3 separate regions of the Homo sapiens genome follow, and regions 1 and 2 are each reported to be linked to region 3. Evidence: microRNA targets listed by miRTarBase, many of them from high-throughput screens and not tested one by one. Region 3 holds a microRNA gene; each other region holds the end of a gene's coding sequence.

Region 1 (7,188 bases), not on the chromosome of region 3:
GCCAGGGAGGCAGACACCGCAAAACTAACCAGTGCAATGGGCAGCGAGTCAGCCAGAATCCTGGGCAGCTCAGCCAGGTTGGGGAGGAGGGGTTGGGGAAATCTGGAGAGGGAGGGATCCATGGTGAGGAGGGGTTAGGTGCTTCAGTGAGATAAGGAAGGCAGAGAAAATGGGGGGTGGAGATAAGAGGGAGTGTTGGGTGGGAGAGGTGGGAGAAGAGAAAGCTGGCATCTTTTCATTCTCTTACCCTCCAGGCAACAGCCCCACTATCTGGACTTGGTATCTTGTGTCCACAGAAGAGGTGAAGCAGAGCACGGAGGCCAGAAGCACCTGAAAAAGAGAGCAAAATGAAGGCATGGGAAGAGATGGGGTCCCTGGCAGAAGCTAGAAGGGGCTGACCATGAGAGAGGACCATAATGCAGGCCTAGCTGGCTGCAGGAGCCCAGCACCTGGGGGAGCGGGGATGTGTTTGGGATGAGGGCCTGACAACTGATTTGTAGTGTAGAGCTGGGAAAGAGGGATGACATATGCCTGAGGCCACAGAGCCTGGAGCCGTGGAAGTAAGAGGACGCTTCTGTGAAGGATGGTGGATATGAAGAGATGCCACTGAGCCTTCCAAAGAGGGAAGCTGGACGATATCTAGTGATATACTGGCATCTGTGGAGACGCGGAACGTTTATTTAGTTGGGGAGAGAGAGAAATGTCGGTGGAGGGTGGAGAGGGAGATGCACTGTGAATTACAGGGAAGGACCCTGGTGAGGACAGATGTCAGAGAAGGTGCTGTGACCAGCAAGACCTCAAGGGAGCGCTGTAGGATGGCAGAGGAAACTCCAAGAGGTCTAGGGGGTGCTCCGTGAGAGACGTGGGACAGTGTCGAGGGGGGCTGTGGAAGGTCAAAGCGTCCTTCTGCAGGAGGCCAAGGAAAGTGTGAGCCGGCCCTCTGTTCCGTGGCCTCTCTGCACTCCACCAGGGGGCGGCAGCGGCCAGTTCCCACAGGACCGCAGGGTCTGCGCGGGCAGGGGGCCGGCGCGCACGGCCATCCTCACCAAGACGACTTCCCCCGGGATCGGCGTGGGTAGCCGGTCTCGGAATCTCACGTTCAATTCCTTGACCGGCACGAGCAGCGCCAGGCTGAGCGCGGAGATGGTCAGTTCGGCCGGACTGCTCCGAGGCAGCGCAGTCAGCAAGGAGGCCAGCGTCTGAGGGCAGGGGCGATGAGCAGAGGGCCCCGTGCCAGGGCTCATGCGCCCCGGCGCGGGACCCCCAGAGCGAGGCCCTCTCTACCCAGTGCCACCAGGGCTTACACCTCCTCAGCGCCCTCGTTCAGCCACGTGGCTCCAACCTCCTTTCCTGCTCCCTTGTCACATACTACCCCTCCACCCTCCGTCCTTCCTCCCTTTTCGAGTTTCCCTATTCACGGGACCTCTAGAAGCCCCTTCTCCTTTCTTCTTCCACCCCCACCTTGAAGAGAGAGAAGCAGCCGATCTGGCGCGGGAGGGACAACCCCAAGAGGCTCGGCAGCTGGGACAAGAGCACGTGCAGCGCGGCCCCGCTGGTCAGCGCCTTGACCACAGGCTCGGACAAAAAGGTGGACAAGACGCCGAGCTGCAGCACGAACATCCCCAGCTGTGGGGGAGAAGACGCGCTGTCACCATCTAGAGGAGGAGCAAACCAACCCCGCGCACCTCCGCCCTCCCGAACCCAAGCCGAAAGCTGGTCCCTCCCTCTTCCCCGGCCCAATTTCCCTGGCCCCTCAGCAGGGATCCCCCCGGGTTCCTCCCCGGGTCCTCCCTCACCATCAACGCCCCGCTCCCGAAGGCCACGGCCGCGGCTACCCCAACCCGTTGAGCGTCCAGCTGCTCCTTCTCGATTCCGCTCAGATTCCCCACGAGGGGTTCCGGCACCAGCCGCTCGACGGCCGAGCCTGTCATGAGGCTGAGTATGGCGAAAGTTCCTGCCGCCGGGGGACAAATGCAGACATCACCAGCTGTGCAGCCCTGGGCAGGGCAGCAGCTCAGGGTCCATGCCTTGGGTCCGAGATCCTGCTGCCAGACTCGGCTCTCCAAGAAGGCTGCTGCCCCGTCAAGACTGTGGGGCGCGAAGAGCTGCGCTAGCCGGCAAAAACTGCTCCCTCCTGCAGATTCTCTGCCTACTGCGTGCCCCTTTGGGGGACCATGCACCTATTCTTCCCCTTCCAAGTCCCTGAGATGTTCATTTTAACCAAATTTCATAGGGGAAAAAAGTTCAGGTAAACTCCCACCTCTTTGCACCCACTCTAGCAAGCATTGCCTAGGTCAGTTTCCTGGCAGGGTTGGGCAAGGAGGGAGGTGAAGGTAGGAGAGGTGAAGAGGGAAATTAGGAAGAAGGGAAATAACAGCCCCTGTCCATTTTCATCCCATAGGGAAGAAGAGTCATTGGAAGTCCCTGGTCACTCACCTGTGGACAGGTGTCTCCCAGTACCTAGCAAGCTGTAGATGAGGACGGGGAAGAAAGAAGTGTAGAGTCCAAACACCGGGGGCACGGAGGCCAGGAGAGCAAAAGCCATGCCTGGGATAGAAGTGGATGGAAAGGTGTGCTGTGGGGAGGGGGCCTTGTCCAACCTCCAGGACTTAAATGCACTTCCCAGACTCTTAGGAGCTGACATCAAGGATGCTAAATCAAGCCTCATCAGGGAACTGAGGGGTTAATGGGCCTCAGTGAGAGGTCATGGAGCAGACAAGGTCAGGGACGCTGTGGCCAAGTCCTGGGGGCCAGGCGTTGTGCCTCTCTCCGGTTCTCTGAGCCAGAACCTGTCTAAGGCTTCTCGCAGGATTGCGCAGATGAGGGGAGGTGGGGATGGGGATCTGATGGAGCTCCACAGTCCTTACCTCAAACTTGGCCTCAGATCCCTCTCTCCCACCCTCGACGGTAGGAACCCACCATCTGCTCCCGGATTCCCAGCTCCCTAAGCCTCCTCCCGGAAGCCCTCTAGAGCTTGTGCTCCCGACAGGCTGCTGTTAGGGCCTCTCACCCTGGGGCACGTGCACGATGCCCACGGTCACTCCGGCCACCGCATCTCCGAGCAGCCAGGCCCGCCAGCGGTAATGGGGCAGCCAGTGCAGCGCGGGCAGCCGAGCCAGCAGCAGGCGCCACGCCCCTGTCCCGGAACAAGCGCGAGCCCGCAGCCTCCACAGCCCGAAGAGCCGGGGAAAGCCGCGCTCTTCAGGTAGCTCCGGTTCCTGCTCTTCGCCCCTGAAGAGCTGATGGAACCGAGCCTCGGTGAGAGCTTCCCTGAGCCTGGTCGCCAAGGGGTACTTAAGGTCAGAGGTGTCCCCCGCGCCTGGGTAGGTCCTGGTGCCCTGAATCCCGCTCATTCTGCCCTTGGCCACCTCCAACTCCGCCCGGTCTTAAATACTCCTCCGCCCGCTAAGCCCTGAGTCCCGCCTCCCACGAAGCAGGGTCCAATCCGGCCCTGAGGTCACCCTCGCTTGAGGACCTTCTCGGGTCTGGCGAGAGCCGCGGCTTGGAGAGGGAGAGTCTCTATGTTAGGCGTTTCTGCAGACATCCTTGGCCGGATCTGATCGCTGGCTCTGGGGTGGCTGTGGAAATGTGTAGATATTAGAGAGAGAGAATCCGAAAGGCAAGCGCACCCCGACACTCAACACCCGCTATTTACCCTTCCTTAGACTTTTCACTTAACTCCCGGTTCCTTTCCCCATCGGCACCTTGGGCGGAGAGAGAGGCTGGTTCCTCTTGGGTCACTGGTCCTTCCCTGAGCCACTACATTCTCCCAGCCAGAGCAAAAAAGTTCAGCGCCCATCCTGAACCTCACCCAGACCCACATCTTCATGGGGCACAGCTGGTTCCAAAAAGCAGTTTCATGTCCTACTGACATGGAATGCAGCCACATGTATTGGAGAGGGATAATGACAGAACCAGCACCCACACCTCTGTGAGGAGTGGCTGGGCCTAGTTCAGGGCCTCAGGGGAAATACTGAACCCACAGGATATTTTTTTCTTAGGAACCAAAAAAACTGAAGCACCATTTATCACATTCAAATGCTTTTCACAGGCCAGGTGAAATGGCTTACGCCTGTAATCCCAGCACTTTGAGGCCGAGGCAGGTGGATCACCTGAGGTCAGGAGTTTGAGACCAGCCTGACCAACATGGTGAAACCCTGTCTTTACTAAAATATACAAAAATTAGCTGGTTATGGTGGCAGGTGCCTGTAATTCCAGCTACTCAGGAGGCTGAAGCAGGATAATCGCTTGAACCCAGGAGGTGGAGGTTGCAGTAAGCCGAGATGGAGCCACTGCATTCAAGCCTGGGCGACAGAGCAAGACTCCATCTCAAAAAGAACAAAAAACAAACAAACAAAAAACAAATGCTGTTCACAAAGTAGGCATTCAAAAGCACATATGTGGTCAAACTAAGTTCAAAGGGGTCAGCCACCCCGCTCATGTGTCCCTATGGTTCCTAAAGAAATATAAAGGTTCTAACTCCAGAATCCTGCTGTTTGCCATGATCCTCCACCCCCATTCACAAGAATCTTCGGCACCCCTCCCCATGATCCTCTGGTCCCCCAGTCCACGACCCCAAAGCCCGGGGGGTGGGGTGCAGTGAGGGTGGGTCTCCCTTCTTCAGTTCCTCCTATTGTTCCGCAGAAGTCTTATCTGGGCGCTACATCCTGTACCCCCCTTAGGAATCCCTCCCTATTATCGGCTAAAGGGACCTCGGGCCCACAGGGAGGCTCCAGGTCTCCTCCTCACCCTCCCACCCCAGCAGTCTATTGTCTGTTGAGGAAGCCCAAGTGCACGTGACTGAGCCCAAGGGACGAATGGATACAGTGGACTCGGAGATGCATTAAGGACCCAGGACAGGGCATCTGGACATGGCTGTGTGAATGTTTGGCTCGCTCTGTTCCAGCGGCTCTCCCAGAAGTTGGGAGGGGTGAAGATCCCCTTGGGCTGTCCGCTCTTGGGTCCATGGCTTGAAGAAGAATCCCCTTCTGCTCACTATGAACATGGCTTATGACCTCGCAGAGAGCAAAGATAAGGAGACCCAGAGCCAGGAAAAGGTCTCAGCCCCCAGGATCCTCTCCACCTTCCCATCCTCCCTCAGCTGAACATGGTAGCCTCAGAAGGAAAGGTACATTGGCATTTTGTGCTTTCGTATCTGGGTGTTGGGGGAATGGTGAGAAGTCACACTGCATTGGGCTTTCTGGTGGGGTCTAGACCAGAGGGTGGGTAGGGAAAAAGAAGGGCTGGGTAAAGAGGATACATCAAGAATCTAGGGCTGGCCAGATGCAACGGCTCATGGCTGCAATCCCAGCACTTTGGGAGGGCAAGACTGGTGGATCACTTGAGCCCAGGAGTTCAAGACCCTGGGCTACATAGTGAGACCCTAACTCTACAAAAAAAAAAAGGGAAGAAGAAGAATCTAAGGGCTTTCCAGTGGTTCCATGCCTCAGTCTTTGTCCCTCAACTGCTGCAACTGCAGTTGAGGGACAAAGATAGCAACATCTTTTATCTTACACCCTGTCCCCTTCTCCTTTCACCAGACCCCCTCCTCCAATGGCTGGGGCCAACCGATCTCTTCCATATCACTTCACCCCACCTACCCCCACTACAGCCTCCCCTTCCCTCTGCCAAGACAGCAGCCTCGGTGATATAACAAAACCTTTATTCTCAGAAAACAGGAAAAACAAAATTAAAAAACAAAACCAATAATTTCTATCTGGCCCCTGCCCCAGCCCTCCCACCCACCCACATATCCTCCTTTTGGGGGGACCATGATGCATGCATAGGGATGGGAGCTGAAGGAAACTGTGTTCCTTGGGCAGAAAAAAGTCCTTGGGTCTAGGTGTTCTCCTCCAAGTTGATATCCCTCCCAGCCTTGCCCACCCTCCAGACACACCAAGAAGGAGGAATTCTGGAGCAGTGCCAGAAGGACTGCCCTGAAGCTCCTTGGGGAATAGGCGGCTGAGTCAGCACCACCCCCATGGTTTTCACCAGTTACAGCTCATCTTCATCCAGCTTGGCAAGTCTGGCTTGGCAGGGAGGGGTTTTTGGAGTTGGAGAGACTGGAGGAGAGTCATGGGGAGCCTGGGGGATGTCACCAAGGGCCTGAAGAAAAGATTCAAGTCAGAGGATCAAAAAGGCCAGAAATCTACCCTCACTTCTCTCTTTTCAGTTTAAGTCCCTAGCCAAGCCACCTCCTCTTGCTAGATATCTTAGACTGTCTGAGACTATCAGCTTCTCCAGAGTTAAAATAGAGGGGAGAAGCGTAAGGGATGGGAAGTAGGAAGGACCAGATAAAAGGAAGGAATGATATGGGGAGGGAACTTGGGGTCCCAGAACAAGAGAGGCTCTCCCCTTTTTATCCCTACAATGAGGGAGCTCTATTCGTCATACCTGTTTATCCAGTGGCAAGAGGGCTCTGGCCACCTCCCCTTTGGGTGACAGCAGCAGAGAGGGGAGAGAGCCATTGATGGGTGTGTGTGTGCTGCCCTGGGCCTGATCTCCAAGCTGAATTCTTCCAGGGCTCCCCACTCCAGGCCCTCTTGGCCGCCCCAGGCTGTTGGTCTGGCTCTCCCGTCTCTGGTACTCAATGGGTGACTGCAATGCTGGAGCAAAGAGAGGAACAGAAGGAGGGTTACCGCAGAGACAGGTCTGCTCCCTAGGGCCTGTATCATTCTCCCACTTTGCCCTCCCTCCCTGTCAGCCAATGTCAATTGCTTAGGGCTTTAGGGGATTCTATCAAATTTTGAGCTAGCAGTGGAAAAGGGGATGGGCCATGGTCAGAGGGTAGGTACTGGAGACTGGGCAGTGAGGGATTCAGGAGGTTAAGGGGCTGAGAGAGCACATCGGGAAGAAAGGATGAGAGCTTCACCGTTGAGGAAGTCCCGTTGGCTCTCCAAGATCTGAGCCACATGCTTGATCCAGGCCTGACTGATAGCAGGGTCTGCAGCCTGCAGGACATAGCGCTGGATCCCACCCTCTGGCCCTCTGGAGGTCAGTGCAAAGCGGCAAGGGTCACCTTGGAGGTTCCCCTCCAGTCCCAGGCAGCTCACCTGAATTGGCAGATAGGAGACAGCCCCCAGATTCCTCAGGCCCTCCCTGGCTCCTCTGAGACATCCTCTCAGAGGCCTCATGCCCTCTCTCTCTCCAAGCCCTCCCTCGTGGCCTTCTCCCCACCTTAATGCTGTT
Region 2 (7,178 bases), not on the chromosome of region 3:
CCTCTAGGGTGAGTTTAGGTACTAGACTCTTCTGTCTACCCTCAACTCAATATGGTTTATCTAAGGTGTTTCTCGTTTTTCCCTATGCTTTTCTTGAGAGAGAAAGAACCACTGGAAATCTGTTTAGAGATCACTGAAACCAAGTTTCTGAATAAATCACATAATAAATATAACCACCACCACCACAGCCATTTATTAAGTGCTTGCCAGGCACTGTGCTAAAGCTTTACAAACATTGTTTCAGTTATTCCAACAACCCTGAGGTAGATATTTTCAACATGCCTCCCTCCACCCATGTTATTATAGTTGAGGAAACTGAGGCTCAGAGAGGTTAAGTAAATCAACCAAGGTCAAACCCAGCTGGTAAGTAGTGAAGCTAGAAATTCAAACCAACTATATGTGACTCCAAAATCCATGCCTTTAAACACTATCCTAGATTGTTTACCATTGAAAGTTAAAGGACATATGCTCCTTCCCAAAATATGAGAATAGATTTTCAGTGGGAAAGCAGGGGGGAGCCCATATGTAAATTCTTTCATCAGCTATGGGACTCAAACTCTTGGAGGAGTGGAGAGATAGTCTGGGTATAAGCTGACCACTAGGTCCTCTCATCTCTCCAGCTGCCAGGGCCTTTCTCATTAAGATCTCTACTCCTGACATCTGACTACGCAATATACTGTTTCCCTTTCAGCAACCACTGGGATGCAGAGGTCAGGCACATTTGGTGACACAGAGCCAAAGACACCTCAGAGAAATTAGGAGACACTCAAAAAAGTCCACCACCCCTGAACTACTGATCCCTAAGGCACACAGATGCATTTAGATGGAAACCCTCCATGAAGGGGACATGTTCCACGTCATGTTTGATGCCCATCACCACCCTGCAAAGGGGATATTGGTATCTCCTTCTGACAGCTCAGTTCTTCCACACCAGCTTCCCGGGCCTGACATCATTCTCACAAAGTCTCCTCAGCAATCCCTGCACCTCTCCCCTCAACTGGCCCTTGTAGGTGCCCACCCCTAACCCACCTCTGGAGGCCTCACTGACCACACGCCCCCAGGCCTCAAGACTTCCCGTTTCTGAGGTTGTGCCCAACAGAAATGCCCTCAAAGTGCTCAGCAAGGCTCCATTCATCCATGACCTATGAGGATTAAACCAAGATGGCTGAAGACAAGCAGAAGGGGCTACCACAGTGAGACAAGCTGAACCAGGATGTACAGAACTGACAATGGAAGGGCAAGAACACACAGCAGACACAAAACAAGAGGACTAGCCATGGGCAAAATAAACAGAGCTGTCAAAAATCAGAAAAGGGAGACGGCCCTAAGATGATCAGGGATGACCAGAGAGAGGGATCCTAAAGACAAGTCTATTCACACTTGCAGCCATGGAGTTTCTGAGGGAAGGACAACTGTTTAGGAAAAAGGGTCTTGGTAAGGAGGCCGCTGGAGAGACTAGGCAGGAGACAGCTGAATAAGGGAAACTGCAGGCAGCTCTGGAGAGGGAGGCTGGAACATCCCTTTAGAGCCAACAGTTTGAGAAGACATCAGAGAAGTATGCAGGCAGTGGAAGACAAGCAGCTGAAGGTCTCAAAGGGGAGTAAGACACCAGCTGAAAGGCCAGACTCTGGAGCCCTGAGCTACTTCTAGGTATACCTCATCATCTACCCCATCTGGGTGAAACTGGTCCCTGAGGGTCATTCCCTGCAGCCCCTGCTAAATTCTGTACCAGATTTTGAAGGGTGGAAGACCCAGAGGTAGGGAACCTACTGAGAGGCGAGACGCAGCCCCATTTTTGGGAAGTTCCCATTCTGAAAGAGAGAACCACCAACCCGCATTCCTTCATCCTTGGATCCTCTAAGGCACTCACTGCATTCAAGTCACAAAACTGAGGAAGAAATACTAGTATAAATTAATACTGTCCTTGAAGTTTGAAAGGACAGCAGAATATGAGAAGTAACACAGAGACATGGGAAGAGCCAAGGTGGGCTGCTCCACACCTGAAGACTCATCCTATTACTGAACCTCAGCACTGTTTACACATCTGGCCTCAGAGGCCTCAGAGCCCCTCCACACAGCCACAGCTGCACTGATGTGGGGTTGTGGGGACATCAACGTTGCTAGGAAGCGTAGAGTAGCGAGGCCCTCTCGGGGGAGCCCAGAGGCTTACAAGGAGCCTGGGTAGAGCTTTGCTCTCTACTGGTTTCCTCCTCTCTCAACAGTCCCTAATCTTGTCCACACAGGGTGCACGATATACAAGTGTGGCCTTATAACCTCTGGTTGCTTCATGTAATTTCTTCCCCAACTAAGCAGAAGCTCCTGGGATTTGATAAGGACCAGATTTTCCTCACGCCCTACAGTGCTGGAATGTAACAAGTACTTGTCACAGGTGGGCTATGAGGGGTGTTGACTATTACAAAAACATTTTCCACAAATGGCAAACACATGTCAAAACTTTTCCACTGTTATTCTTTGCCTTATAGCTTGTACCTGACACTCATCTATTTCTATCTTTGTTGGCTCATGCCCAAAGATGTCTGTTCCTATATCCATCTCAGGCTGGCAACTGGGTCCCTAATCTTTGTTAAGAAATACAAGCTCTGCCCACTTGTGGCAATACTGAAAGAGGATGTAGCCCAGGAGTCTCTGGGGGCAGAGGGAGGGAGTGTCTCCCCATACTGGGCTGGCCCACTGATAAGGATCCTTCCCCTCTCTGTCTCCTAACAGATTCAGATTAATGATCGCTCATTCCTAATTGTCAAATTTCTTTTCCTTCATCCTGTGTCTAATCACCAGTGACAGAAACCATTACGCAAATGAGAGCAGACGACTTCCCCCAACTGTTCACGTTGGTAAAAACCTTGTAATTTAGAGCTCTGATTTGTAGGGGAAGCTGGTCTCCCCCAGGCATCCTGGGCATCTGCTCAACTGATGCCCAGAACAGCCCCTCCTCCAACCCCAGAACTCCAACCCCCAACAAATATTTGACTTTACAAAACACTAGTTTTCTCTGTACCTGCTGGTGTGAATAGATGAGCCTGCAGCGTAGCTGACCTCTATACAGGCCCAAACCCCCACCTTCACTTGCTGTATGTGTGTGTCCCACACTGCCAGCTAGGATGGAGGTAAACAACTACAGCAGAAATGTTTCCTCTGTGGCAAGCAGAATTTGAGCCTAAACATCCCTCAAAAGGTAATCGAAGGGGAAAAACCTCATCTTTTCCTTGGGGGGAAGCAGCAGCTGAATATGAACCAAGACCCTTAGTGCCATCTAGAACTACAGCTTCAGTTCTATAGATGCAAAAGCATGCCGGGAGGAGTTATGGGTCCTATTCAAGGACACATAAGTAATGCAATTAGACACAGAACTCAGTTCCCCCCACAGCTTCTTCTAGCACTAATTCATAATATGGCTTCCCAGGCAGTTTTTCCAAGACTTTGTTAGCAGGAGCCCAGAAGAACTTTCACCCTGAGCTGTATATTCTGCACCATCTTGGGCTGGGTCTGCCTTCAGATACTGCCCAGTGGGGTGATATCTTGAGGACAGAACCTGTGGTACAAGGAGGGAGGTAAGGAAGGAAAATCAACATAGTTTGGTGGAAAGGAAGGAGCAAGGGGTTTGCAGCCTAACAGTGCTAAGTTACAACTGATTGTCACTAATCACCTAATCTCTCTGAGCCCATTTATTCATCTGTAAGTGAGAATACCTACCTTGCAGGATAGTGAGGAACAAAGAGAAAAGCACTAGGCACATATTAGGTGTCTAAAAATCAGGAATCACTCTTGTGTTACCCAAGGATCAAGGCCAATCCTGTGAAGGTTCCAAGATTAGCCTTCTCCCTCCCACCCCTCAGCCACCTTAGTGAGACCTGTGTCAGCAAATAACTCAGCAAGGACCAGCTGAGTGCATGCCTCCTTGACACATCACCCACATCTTTGAGCGCTGAGCGAGGAATACAGCAGACCTGCTGAGGAGAACGAAAATAATCTACTATCTTTCCAAGTGTGACTGTGGCCAAGTTTTTCCTCCGCTCCTGTGCTCCTCTTTCCCAAAAGAAGTGGAGAGATAGAGATCACTGCAATCACATTTCCCAGCATTGACTATATTTGAAAGAGCTACACTTGAGAAGGTACCATATCTTCACATCCACACTGCATCAGAGAACCCCAGAATGGGGTACTAAAAATAAACACCCCTCCCCAAAAAACGCACTCAGGCATGCACACACATCCACACGCATCCTCTCAGTTCATCAGTGCACTATAACTGAGCTTCAGGGGTGAGAGCCAGAGCTCAGATGCTGGAAGTAAACCTTTGGCAAAAAAAAAAAAAAAGAAAAGAAAACCAGAGACCTTCCAACTCCTCTTCCCTTCCAGAGAGAAGGTGATGAAGACAGGAGCAGAGGTGAGGAGACACAGGGCCACCACACTGCCCAATCCCAGGGACCCCACTCCCACTGAATAGATGTGAATGATGGCCCTTCAAGTTGTGCAATCACAGCTGCCCACCTGTAAGCTGCAGCCCTGAGAGGGGTTCCCAGGAGTAGCTCCTAACAGAAAAGGAAATTCGACTTCCATGCTCCACCAGTTGCCCTGACTATTGAGGGTGTTGTGGCACATTACAACGGGGTCTGGCAGAGGAGCTGGCTTTAAGACGCAAGCCTATGTGTTTGCCCGTGCCCTGAGGTGGATCACAGGTAGTGAATGAGCTGCCTGGGCTTGACCCCATTTCATCTATTCAGCCAGGAAGCTCAGCAGGAATAAAGGATATGGCCTGGGCAGGGAGCATCATAGGGCCTGGAGGCTCTAGCCAGTTAGCCTCGGGCAGGCTGCAGTGAGACCTGGCCAACATATGATGGCTAAAATCCAAGTGTAAAAGCTTAGGATAGGTCAGGCAGTACTTCCCGGGGGCTCACACTGTACTGTCCCACTGGAAAAGGTAAGCAGTGGAGAACCTTGGTAAGTAGGGAGGCTGGCCAGTGTGGACACACACACACACACACACGGACACACACACACACACGCACGCACACACACACACACACCCAGAGGCTTGCACCCCTAGTGTGGATACGCACACACAGACACACACAAACAAACACACAGAGGCTTGCACCCCTAGAACCTAGAGAAGCCACAGCTAGGAGAACTCCCTTGGTACCCAGCATAGGGGCAAGAGCTGGTGCTGAAAGAGAGAAACTATATGTGTCTCTAATTTAGAACTTATGCACAATCATTGGTTCTTATGTCCCAAGGTCCTTTTATGTATGGCTTGAGCTTGTAGGCCCAGTTGGAACCCTATCTAATCCTCTCTCACAGGAAGGCTATATAGGCTCTCAAAGGCAAGCCTCCCCTCTCTTTCACCCCATTAGAGTCCCGGTAGCCATTCCCATACCGCCTAGAGCTTGACTACGCAAAAACTGTCAGGAGGCAGACTGACCTAATGGTCAGACTAGCTCTGGCCCTGCAGCCCAGATGCAGTGGGGAGTCCAAGAGCATCTCATCTCTCTCTCAGGCTGAGGCACTGAGGTTGCAGGAGATAGGGCTGAGAGCCGGAAGTGACAGCCTGACCCAGAAGGAACAGGGAACAGATACATACATGCGTGTGCATGCACACACACGCACACATTCCGAAGTTGACAGACTAACATACACACAGACATGATGACAACCAAAAGCTGGGACTCCACACACTGAATGCAGGACTTTAGGCGGGGGGCAGAGAGAGAAGGTGCTGGGGCACAAGAGGCAAGGGTATGAAGTCCCTCCAAATAGGAGTGGAGTGCCAACTGCCCTGCCTCGCTCCAAACACCTGACTCCTGGGCCATGGCAAGAGTCCAGTCCATTAAGTGCAGCGTGCAATACTAGCGCTTGGAGTCTCCTGTCCTCATCAATGAAGCGGTGTGGACGGGATAGCAGTCACCTGGCAGGAGGCCTTGACCCCTGGCAGGCTAGTTGTATCGGCCCTTGATCATTGTGTTCAACAAGGGCCCCACCTGTAAAGAAACATGAGGAGCCAATCAGAACTGGCTGTTCCCTGGCCCTGGAATTGGACAGGGTGTGTCTGGAGACATCAGATGTCCAGCCAAGGACAGAGACAATGTTTTCATACAATCTTGTGAATCCTCTAATCACCTATCTTCCTGAAGGTCAACCCAGTATTCTGGGACATAGTCTTTCCCTCAGGGGTCCATCTTGTACTATTATTCTTCTCTCGCACAACACCGTCTCTTACCGTAATCTGCCCCAAACGGACAGACATGGTCAGAGAAGCTAATAATCCCCGAACACCCAAGAGTGTCTATATGTTTCTCCAGAATGTTAACTGCCTCCATATCCTCAAAAAATGATCATCTGCAACTGGGGCTGATGCTATCTCCCAACACCACAGGTGTCTGTGGATGCTGAGGTTACCTCCAAGAGGCAAGCAAGAACCCTACAAATACAAACCTCCCCCATTTACCCAATGGGCCACTGGCACACCTGCATGGGAAGCAGGTCTCTCAACATTACCTACAGCAGCCCTGGCACAGCTGGGAAAGTGCAAGGAGATGTGTTAGTGCTCGCTTCCTGTTCCAGAAGAATCCCCTCAGGGGGTCCCCAGATGGTACATAATACCCATGGGGAACATTACTACTAGCATGGAACTAATTATAATTGATCTGCCAGTCAAGCCCAGCTATCACCAGAAAACAAGAATTTTTCTGAACATACCCATAACCTCTATGGAGAGAGAGGACACCAGACACTGAAACACAGAAGCTGTAAAGAATGTCGCTCTGATCCTGACTTTCCTTGGTCAACCCACCCACTGAGCCACCTTGGGGCAGTCACCTACCTCTTGTGGGTTCCCCAAGGCCTCTCCAAGCATCTTCTCAATGTTTCTCATTATGGCCACTTTCTGATGAGCTTTGAGAGGATATTCAATTCTCTTAGGGGTGGGAGCCCCCTACAAAGGAAGCAGTAGCTCAGGAAATGCCTTTAGCAGCAGGCGTCAGTGTCACTCTACTGTTCTTAGTACCATCCTCCCTTCTAAGAAACCCAATTCTTGCCGGGCACGGTGACTCAGGCCTATAATCCCAGCACTTTGGGAGGCCGAGGCGGGTGGATCACTTGAGGTCAGGAGTTTGAGACCAGCCTGGCCAACATGGTGAAACCCCATCTCTACTAAAGATACA
Region 3 (7,184 bases):
GGAAATAAGAAGAAAAGAATGAAAGAGGCCAGCATCTCTGGGTGAGGGGGTCACTAGAGGTCACCTAATCCAGCCCCCTCAATGGTGCTGGTGACTTCTCCATGGCAGGTCTGGCCCTTGGTGTGTCCCCGCACCTCGTCTATATCCCTGTTCATTGGTTGTAGCAGCGAGCCAGGGCTCCCCCAGTACCTGCAGGGACTGTGCTTTATGTGGGGATTCAGAGGGGCCAAAGCTCTCCCAGCCCCAGGGCCAGCTGGGGAGGCAGAGAAGCCAGCTAGCAGGGACAGTCCAGTGTGCAGGGTGCGGGTGAAGAGAGAGACAAGCACCTGGGACCAGAGCCCAGGGAGCAACAAATTGGGCCTGGAGGGTCCAGGAAGGAATCAGGGCAGTGAAAATGGCCAGAAGAAAGGAAGGGGGTGATCCAGGTAGAAGGCACTGTGGGGACGCACACAGGCAGGCCAGAGCTGGCACTGAGGGGGTAGTCTAGGCAGGGAGGATGCCAGCTCAGACCAAGCATCGAGAACCCTGCAAGCCACAGGTGCTCAGGTGGAAGGGCTAAACCACGGTATGTCTGAGACTCACCTGGCTCAACTCAGGCTCAGCCATGGAAACTGTGGCCATTAACCCATGGACATGGATAGGGTGACATCAAATATATGGGATGTTTGTGTGTGTGTATGATCAGATTTATGTCGGAGAAAGCAGTTGGGGTAGCTGGTATTGAGAGGATTGGAAGTGCAAGACAGGAGGCCAGAAGTCAGGAGGCTTTTGCTATGATGGTGGCATGCACAAGGGACTGGAGACATTAAGAAGGAATAATTGACAGTTACAGGGAGGCCGACAGCATCAGGGGTCCCTGCCCCCCATTTCCACCTATAACTCAATGGCCGACTGCTCCATTTGTGGTGGGAAGTCCTTAGGCATGGGCATAGTGGGCCCTGGATGCCCAAAGATCTGCAGCTTAGCTGGGGGAGGGGGAGTAAGTGCCCTCCAGCACTGAGGGCTGAGCACTGAGGGATGAAACTGAGTTTCATCAGTTCTCAAGGTCAGCCAGGTTGATGGTTAACAGTTAAAAACAGTATTGGGGCCAGGCACGGTGGCTCACGCCTGTAATCGCAGCATTTTGGGAGGCCGAGGTGGGCAGATCACCTGAGGTTGGGAGTTCGAGACCAGCCTGACTAACATGGAGAAACCCCTTCTCTACAAAAAATACAAAATTAGCCGGGCGTGGTGGCGCATGCCTGTAATCCCAGCTACTCAGGAGGCTAAGGCAGGAGAATCACTTGAACCCGGGAGGCAGAGGGTATGGTGAGCCAAGATGGTGCCATTGCACTCCAGCCTGAGCAACAAGAGCAAAACTTCATCTCAAAAAAACAAACAAAAAACAAAACAAACAAAAAAGTATTGGAGACAGGTGCGGTGGCTCATGCCTGTAATCCCAGCACTTTGGGAGGCCGAGGTGGGTGGATCACTTGAGGTCAGGAGTTAGAGACCAGCCTGACTAACATGGTGAAACCCTGTCTCTACTAAATACAAAAAATTTAGCCAGGCATGGTGGCGCATGCCTGTAATCCCAGCTACTTGGGAGGCTAAGGCAGGAGAATTGCTTGAACCTGGGAGGCAGAGGTTGCAGTGAGCCAAGATCACACCATTGCACTCCAGCCTGGGCAATAAGAGTGAAACTCCATCTCAAAAAAAAAAAAGAAGAAAAAGAAAAAGAAAAAAAAGATATTGGAGGTAGCACTGGTGAGAGAAGAGGTGAATGGCAGGGGGAAGTCTGAGGGGCAGTGGCTTCAGCCTATCCTGTGAGCTCCACAGACTTATAGGCTCTTCTTTCCTCACGGGCTTGGGGTCTGTGATCACAGCCTCTGCCCCTGTGACCAAACCTCCAGCTGGGCCCAATACTCCTCGATGCTTCTGCCCCCAGGGGCTCTGGCCTGTCTATGGCCCCCACCCTACCCATGGTTCTGAGTTAGATTTTTAATTTGTTTTTTGAGATGGAGTCTCATTCTGTCGCTCAGGCTGGAGTGCAGTGGTGCAATCTCAGCTCGGTGCAACCTCCGCCTCCCGGGTTCAAGCGATTCTCCTGCCTCAGCCTCCCGAATAGCTGGGATTACAGGTGTGCTCGACCACACCCAGCTAATTGTTATATTTTTAGTAGAGACGGGGTTTCACCATATTGCCCAGGCTGGTCTTGAACTCCTGACCTCAGGTGATCGGACTGCCTCAGCCTCCCACAGTGCTGGGATTACAGGCGTGAGCCAAGCCCGGCCCTGAGTTAGGTTTTAATCAGAAACCGGGTCTTCCTGCACAGAAGTGGCTCTTGTTGGAATCAGCCCACATCCTCCTACCAGCCTGGGGATCCTGACCCTGCCCTTCTGCCTCTCTCCCTTCATGCCTCTCACCAGAGAACTCCAAGTCCTACAAAGGACACCAGGCAGGGCCATGCAAGCTTGAGGACTGAGGTCAGATTGTCAGGAGCCTTCTGGAGATGGCTCCCAGACTACGCCCCTGTTAACGCTGTCCAGGAAGGCATCCATTTGGGGCAGTGCCTCCTACCCTGCCAGTTCTCCTGCAGCAGGCCGGCAGCTCAGCCTCTCCCTTGGCAGGTGCCCCCAGACCACAGGCCAACCCTCCCTGCAGGCCCAGCATGGAGGGAGGCTGAGGACTCACCTTGGAGAAAGGCTGCAGTCCCAGCCTCTCCCCACCCCCTTCAGAACACCAGCCCCTCAACCGTAGCTGTCAAAGTTTGTGGCCTGGCCTGATGCCCCATCTTATCCACCAGCTAAGTTTGAAGGCAGAAGGGGAAGACTGTCACTGTCACAGGCTCAGCCCGCAAGGTACAGAGCTGGCTCAACATATCCCAAGAGCCAAGCAGACTTTATTTCTGCAGCAATCTCTGCTGGTCAGGGTGCCTGCACTCCTCTACCCACTGCCCTTCATGGCTGCTGCAGTGGCCGCAGCTGTGGCCCATGGCCAGCCACACTGTCAAGGTTCAGCGATGCTGCAGTCATAGCAGAAGTTGAAGTTGGTGGGGGGTGGGGGCACAGGGGGTGGCCGCTCGGGGATGGGCACGTTCTCCAGCTCCAGCAGACGCAGCTTGGTCTCCATGGTCAGCAGCTGCTCCAGGTCCAGCCGTGTCTGCTCGCTGCCCATGGGACTGCCCAGCAAGGCACTGAGCCCATCTGTCCACAGGTAGAACTGGGGGTGGCACAGAGCCGTGAGGGTCTGCCCATCTGCCTCCCCTGCCCACCTGCCGACCTCAGCCTGGCGGACACTCACCTCCCGCTTGGAGGGGGCAATGAAGTTGAGGTACGCTTCCTCCTCCCCACGGTCATAGCTGATTGAGAAGGCCAACTCATAGAGGTCCTGGGGAAGCAAGGGAGCGGGGACACTGAGCAGGGGACAGGGTAGGCGGGGGCGGGTGGGAAGGAGCCCCTGGCCCGCTGTACTCACCTTGTTCTGCTTCCCGGAGCCCTTCTCCCGGACATGGGGGCAGTCCTTGCCTGTCAGGAGTGCCCTCATGTCGGCCACAGGGACTGCAGGAAGAAGGCTGGGCTGAGCACTGCAGCCCTGGCAGCCCCGGGGCCCAGGGCGGTCTGGGGAGAGCAGGTATCTGGCCCCCGCCCCTGCCCGCCTTACGTTGCTCGGGCAGACTCTCCAGGGTAGGCGGGCTGGCGCCCTCCTCCATGTCTCCGTACTGCAGCAGCTTGTGGTTGGGGGACAGGCAGCAGAACCACAGCTTATCTGCGTGGAGAAAGGGAAGAGGGCCAGAGTGCTGAGAGGTCCTGACACCAAGCCAGCCGCCCTCTGCCTGCCCTCTGCCTGCCCTCTGCCCCCTGCCCATGCCCATTCAGAGACCCTGGCGCCGCCGGCTGCTGATCTTGCGGAAGAGCGTCCCCTCACAGAGGCGGAGCAAGCGCTGCTGGCGGATCAGGCCCATGAGCTCTGGCTTCAGCTTCTCCCGCAGCTCCCTGATAGAGGGGTGTCACTGAGCACATCTGACCTGGGGAGTAGCCCAGGGGGCACCAAGGAAGGTAGGGCTAGGACTGAGGATCCATCCCCCCAGACTCACAGTATAGGGGGAGCCAGTGTGCCCTCCTGGTGCAGCCGTTCAGTCTGCCGCAGCCGCAGCACCTCCCCATAAGTGAGCGCATTCACCTTGGTTCGGAAGAGCTCCAGGGAAGTGGGCTTCAGGGCCAGAGTGCGGGCCAGCTGCTCCCGCACCACCTGCATGACCTGGGGCCGCCCAAGCTCAGCTCAGGGCCTAAGCTCTGTACCCAGATCAGCCCCCTGCCCTGGCCCAGGCCTCCCAGCTCCCACCCCACCCACCTTGTCGAAGTCCTCCTGTGTAGCCCGCATCTCCTTCCAGGTCTTATTCAACAGCTGGATGCCCACACAGAAGAGCTCGTGGAAGCTCTGGTCTTGGCCGAAGAACATGGGTGAGAAGTCCTGGGCTGTCTCAGAGCCTGGAGTGGGGGGGCAGGAGGGGCTCAGGGAGAAAGTGCATACAGCCCCTGGCCCTCTCTGCCCTTCCGTCCCCTGCTCTTGGCCATGCTGTGCCCAGTCCAGGCCACTCACAGGGCTCCCCAACACGGAGCAGCTCACACAGCAGCACCGTCAGCTGGATGCTGCCCCGGGCAAAGGGGCACTCGTGCTTGTCCTCGCGGCTGCTGTTCTCCAACACAAACTGGGGGCGCAGAGAATGGGGCAAGGAGTCACAGCTAAGCCCATGGGGACCCTGCCTGGGGGATGCTGCCACCCCCCCACCCTACCCTGTCACCGACCCGGCTGTACGCGCTGGGCGCGTTTCTGGAGAAGTACAACATGTTGTCCAGGGCCAGCAGACCGGGGGGCACGCGCTCCAGGTCCTGTGCTGGGTTGCTGTTCTGGGGGAAGTGGGCACAGGCAGTTCAAGAAGGGCCACGGCCGCCTGGAACAACAGCCCTGGGCTGAGGCAGGGGTGGGGAGTTGGGTAGGGGTGATACTCACAGAAAAGCCCAGTTTGCGGAACTCTCGGGCACAGAGGGAACGGCGACGGTCAGCACTTAGCCCGGCACCCGAGGACTCCCCCTCCACCTCGAAGGCAGCCTGGCGTAGGACCTGCAGCTGCTCCCGCTGCTCCTGGGGTCAGTGTTGGGTGGCGGGGGAGGGGATCAAGATTATAGATTCAAGGCCAAGCTCTAAGCCACCCCCTGCCTTGTCCTCACCAAAGACACACACCTGGCTGTAGGGGTCCAGGGGCGTCCGCATGCGCGGCTCCAGCAGCCCCAGCATGAGAGCCTGCAGTACGTACAGGTGATGAGCCATCTCGTCGCCCATTGGTGCTGCACTGTGGATGATGTTCTGCAGGACAGCCAGTCCCTGGTGTAAGCGAGGGCTCACGGGGAGGGAGGGGCAGAGAGGTCCCCCTGGCCCACCACTTCCTACCTTATAGATGAACTGGCGAAGGTTCCTCTGCCAAAGATAGTCAAGCATGTGCTGAGGGGGTAGAAAGAAAGGGGGCTTAGGCTGGGCGCGGTGGCTCACGCCTGTAATCCCAGCACTTTGGGAGGCCAAGGCGGGCGGATCACGAGGTCAGGAGATGGAGGCCAACCTGGCTAACACAGTGAAACCCCGTCTCTACTTAAAAAAAAAAAAAAAAAAAAAAAAATCAGCTGGGCGTGGTGGCGGGAGCCTGTAGTCCCAGCTACTCGGGAGGCTGAGGCAGGAGAATGGTGTGAACCCGGGAGGCAGAGCTTGCAGTGAGCCAAGATCGCACCACTGCACTCCAGCCTGGGCGACAGAGCAAGACTCCATCTCAAAAAAAAAAAAAAGGGGGGCTTAGAGGATTTTGCTTCAGGGTGGGGCAGCGCCCACCGGGTGCTGCCCCCATCTAGCCACCGATCGACACTCACCTTGCGTTCCACAGGGCTGGCCCCCTGCAGCAAGGCTGTCAGCAGGGCCATGGCCTTGGTTTGCAGCTGCTGGTTCATCCTATGGCAAGAAGAGGGCTCAGTGGAACATTCAGGCTCCAGCCCTGCTCCCTGCATCTGGACCCCAGCCCCAGAGGCTTACACCTGTAGGTGCACCAGCAGCCTATCCAGGGGCACCTCGCTCTTGACCAGCTGGCCCAGGGCTGGGCTGCTCAAGGTCACACTCTCCAGCAGCCCAAGGGCCAGGGGAGGCACGGAGGCATCCATGAGGTTCATGTTCACGTAGCACACCACCTGTAAGGGGCGGGGGTGTCACCACCTCACCCCCATGGAAGACCGGGTCTACCACTGCCCCACTGCTCCACTGCCCCCACCCGCTGCCCTAGGAAAGCCCACCCACCTTCCTCACAAAGGGGATGCTCAGAGTCTCCCAGGACACCACGCCGTGCTCCATGAGCTCTGAGAAGGCCCTCAGGCTGAGGGCCAGCACCTCTCCTAGGCTGGAGGGGGGACATCTGGGGCTGAGCAGGACCACCCCAGGACCAGAAAGACCCACCATCTCCCCCAGCCCACACATCCCTGTGCTCACTCGTCCCCATCTTCAATGATGGTGCCTAGTATCTGGAGCCCATTACGGCTGATGACCTCCCTGGCAAAGATCATGTCCGAGGCCAGCGGAACAAGGCGCCTCAGGGCTTCCCGGCGCCCTTCAGGACTGTTACTCTGCAGCCCACCCAAGAGCTGCTCAGCCTCAAGGTCCTGGCAGGAACGGAGCAGGAGCAGAGGTGAAGAGGCTGGGCATGGTAAGGGTGGGACCTGGAAGTGTGCGGCCCCGGGCGTCAACTAGGTGGCGCAAGGCAGGGCTGGGGCGGGGGCCTCCGGGGCGGGGGGCCTCTGGACCTGGAGCAAAGGGGCAGGGATGGGGAAGGCGGGACGGGAGGGGCATTACTGGGGCCGTGCTGAGGCACAGGATGCTGCCATTCTTGATCTCCGCGCGGTTCTGGAGAAGACAGCAGAAAAGGCAGCGAGGTCAGGGAGGGCTCCGAGGACTGATCAACTGGGGTGTCGGTGAGGGCGGCTGGGGGTGAATAACAGATCGCGCTCCGGTAGTGGGATGAAGAGCCAGAGTTATCGGGGCCAGGTGGGTTAGAGGGGTCGGAAGGCCGAGCTTGGGGCTGGGGAGAGGGGACTCACATTCTCGGTGATGTATCTCCGGTGCCCATCCGCAAACTGCAGGGCGTAACGCTCAGAGTGCGTCAGGCTCCACCT

The links. Region 3 holds the annotated microRNA hsa-miR-328-3p (CUGGCCCUCUCUGCCCUUCCGU, at 4,518-4,539, shown strand). A microRNA usually pairs through its seed, bases 2 to 8, with sites in the 3' UTR of a target mRNA and lowers its output. Matches are read on the target gene's strand: a 7mer-m8 pairs with bases 2 to 8, a 7mer-A1 pairs with bases 2 to 7 and ends in A, and an 8mer does both.
Region 1: the mRNA of ARHGEF25 is a reported target of hsa-miR-328-3p. The part of its 3' UTR that is shown has no 7-base or 8-base seed match.
Region 2: the mRNA of HIF1AN is a reported target of hsa-miR-328-3p. Seed matches in the 3' UTR shown: 7mer-m8 at 5,460-5,466, 7mer-m8 at 4,476-4,482 and 7mer-m8 at 999-1,005.

The regions. Positions count from the first base shown.
Region 1 is chr12:57,615,701-57,622,888 of GRCh38, reverse strand. It overlaps ARHGEF25 (Rho guanine nucleotide exchange factor 25), which reads right to left. Exons shown (of 15, transcript NM_182947.4): 12 at 7,177-7,188; 13 at 6,872-7,052; 14 at 6,394-6,605; 15 at 5,644-6,105. The coding sequence ends at 5,995. LOC101927583 (a long non-coding RNA gene) reads left to right here and starts at 986. Exons shown (of 4, transcript NR_120450.1): 1 at 986-2,248; 2 at 2,402-3,258; 3 at 4,052-4,149; 4 at 4,259-4,484. It also overlaps the pseudogene SLC26A10P. RefSeq lists enhancers at 1,608-2,427, 2,565-3,131.
Region 2 is chr10:100,546,911-100,554,088 of GRCh38, reverse strand. It overlaps HIF1AN (hypoxia inducible factor 1 subunit alpha inhibitor), which reads right to left. Exons shown (of 8, transcript NM_017902.3): 7 at 6,839-6,949; 8 at 1-5,996. The coding sequence ends at 5,952. Among named protein-coding and RNA genes, the nearest start is that of HIF1AN, 15 kb to the right of the region's middle.
Region 3 is chr16:67,199,682-67,206,865 of GRCh38, reverse strand. MIR328 (microRNA 328) reads left to right here and starts at 4,471; the gene lies at 4,471-4,545. ELMO3 (engulfment and cell motility 3) reads right to left here. Exons shown (of 20, transcript NM_024712.5): 3 at 7,110-7,182; 4 at 6,865-6,915; 5 at 6,505-6,674; 6 at 6,316-6,415; 7 at 6,058-6,209; 8 at 5,898-5,976; 9 at 5,431-5,481; 10 at 5,224-5,346; 11 at 4,993-5,124; 12 at 4,788-4,889; 13 at 4,582-4,690; 14 at 4,333-4,469; 15 at 4,076-4,239; 16 at 3,862-3,974; 4 more. The coding sequence ends at 2,989.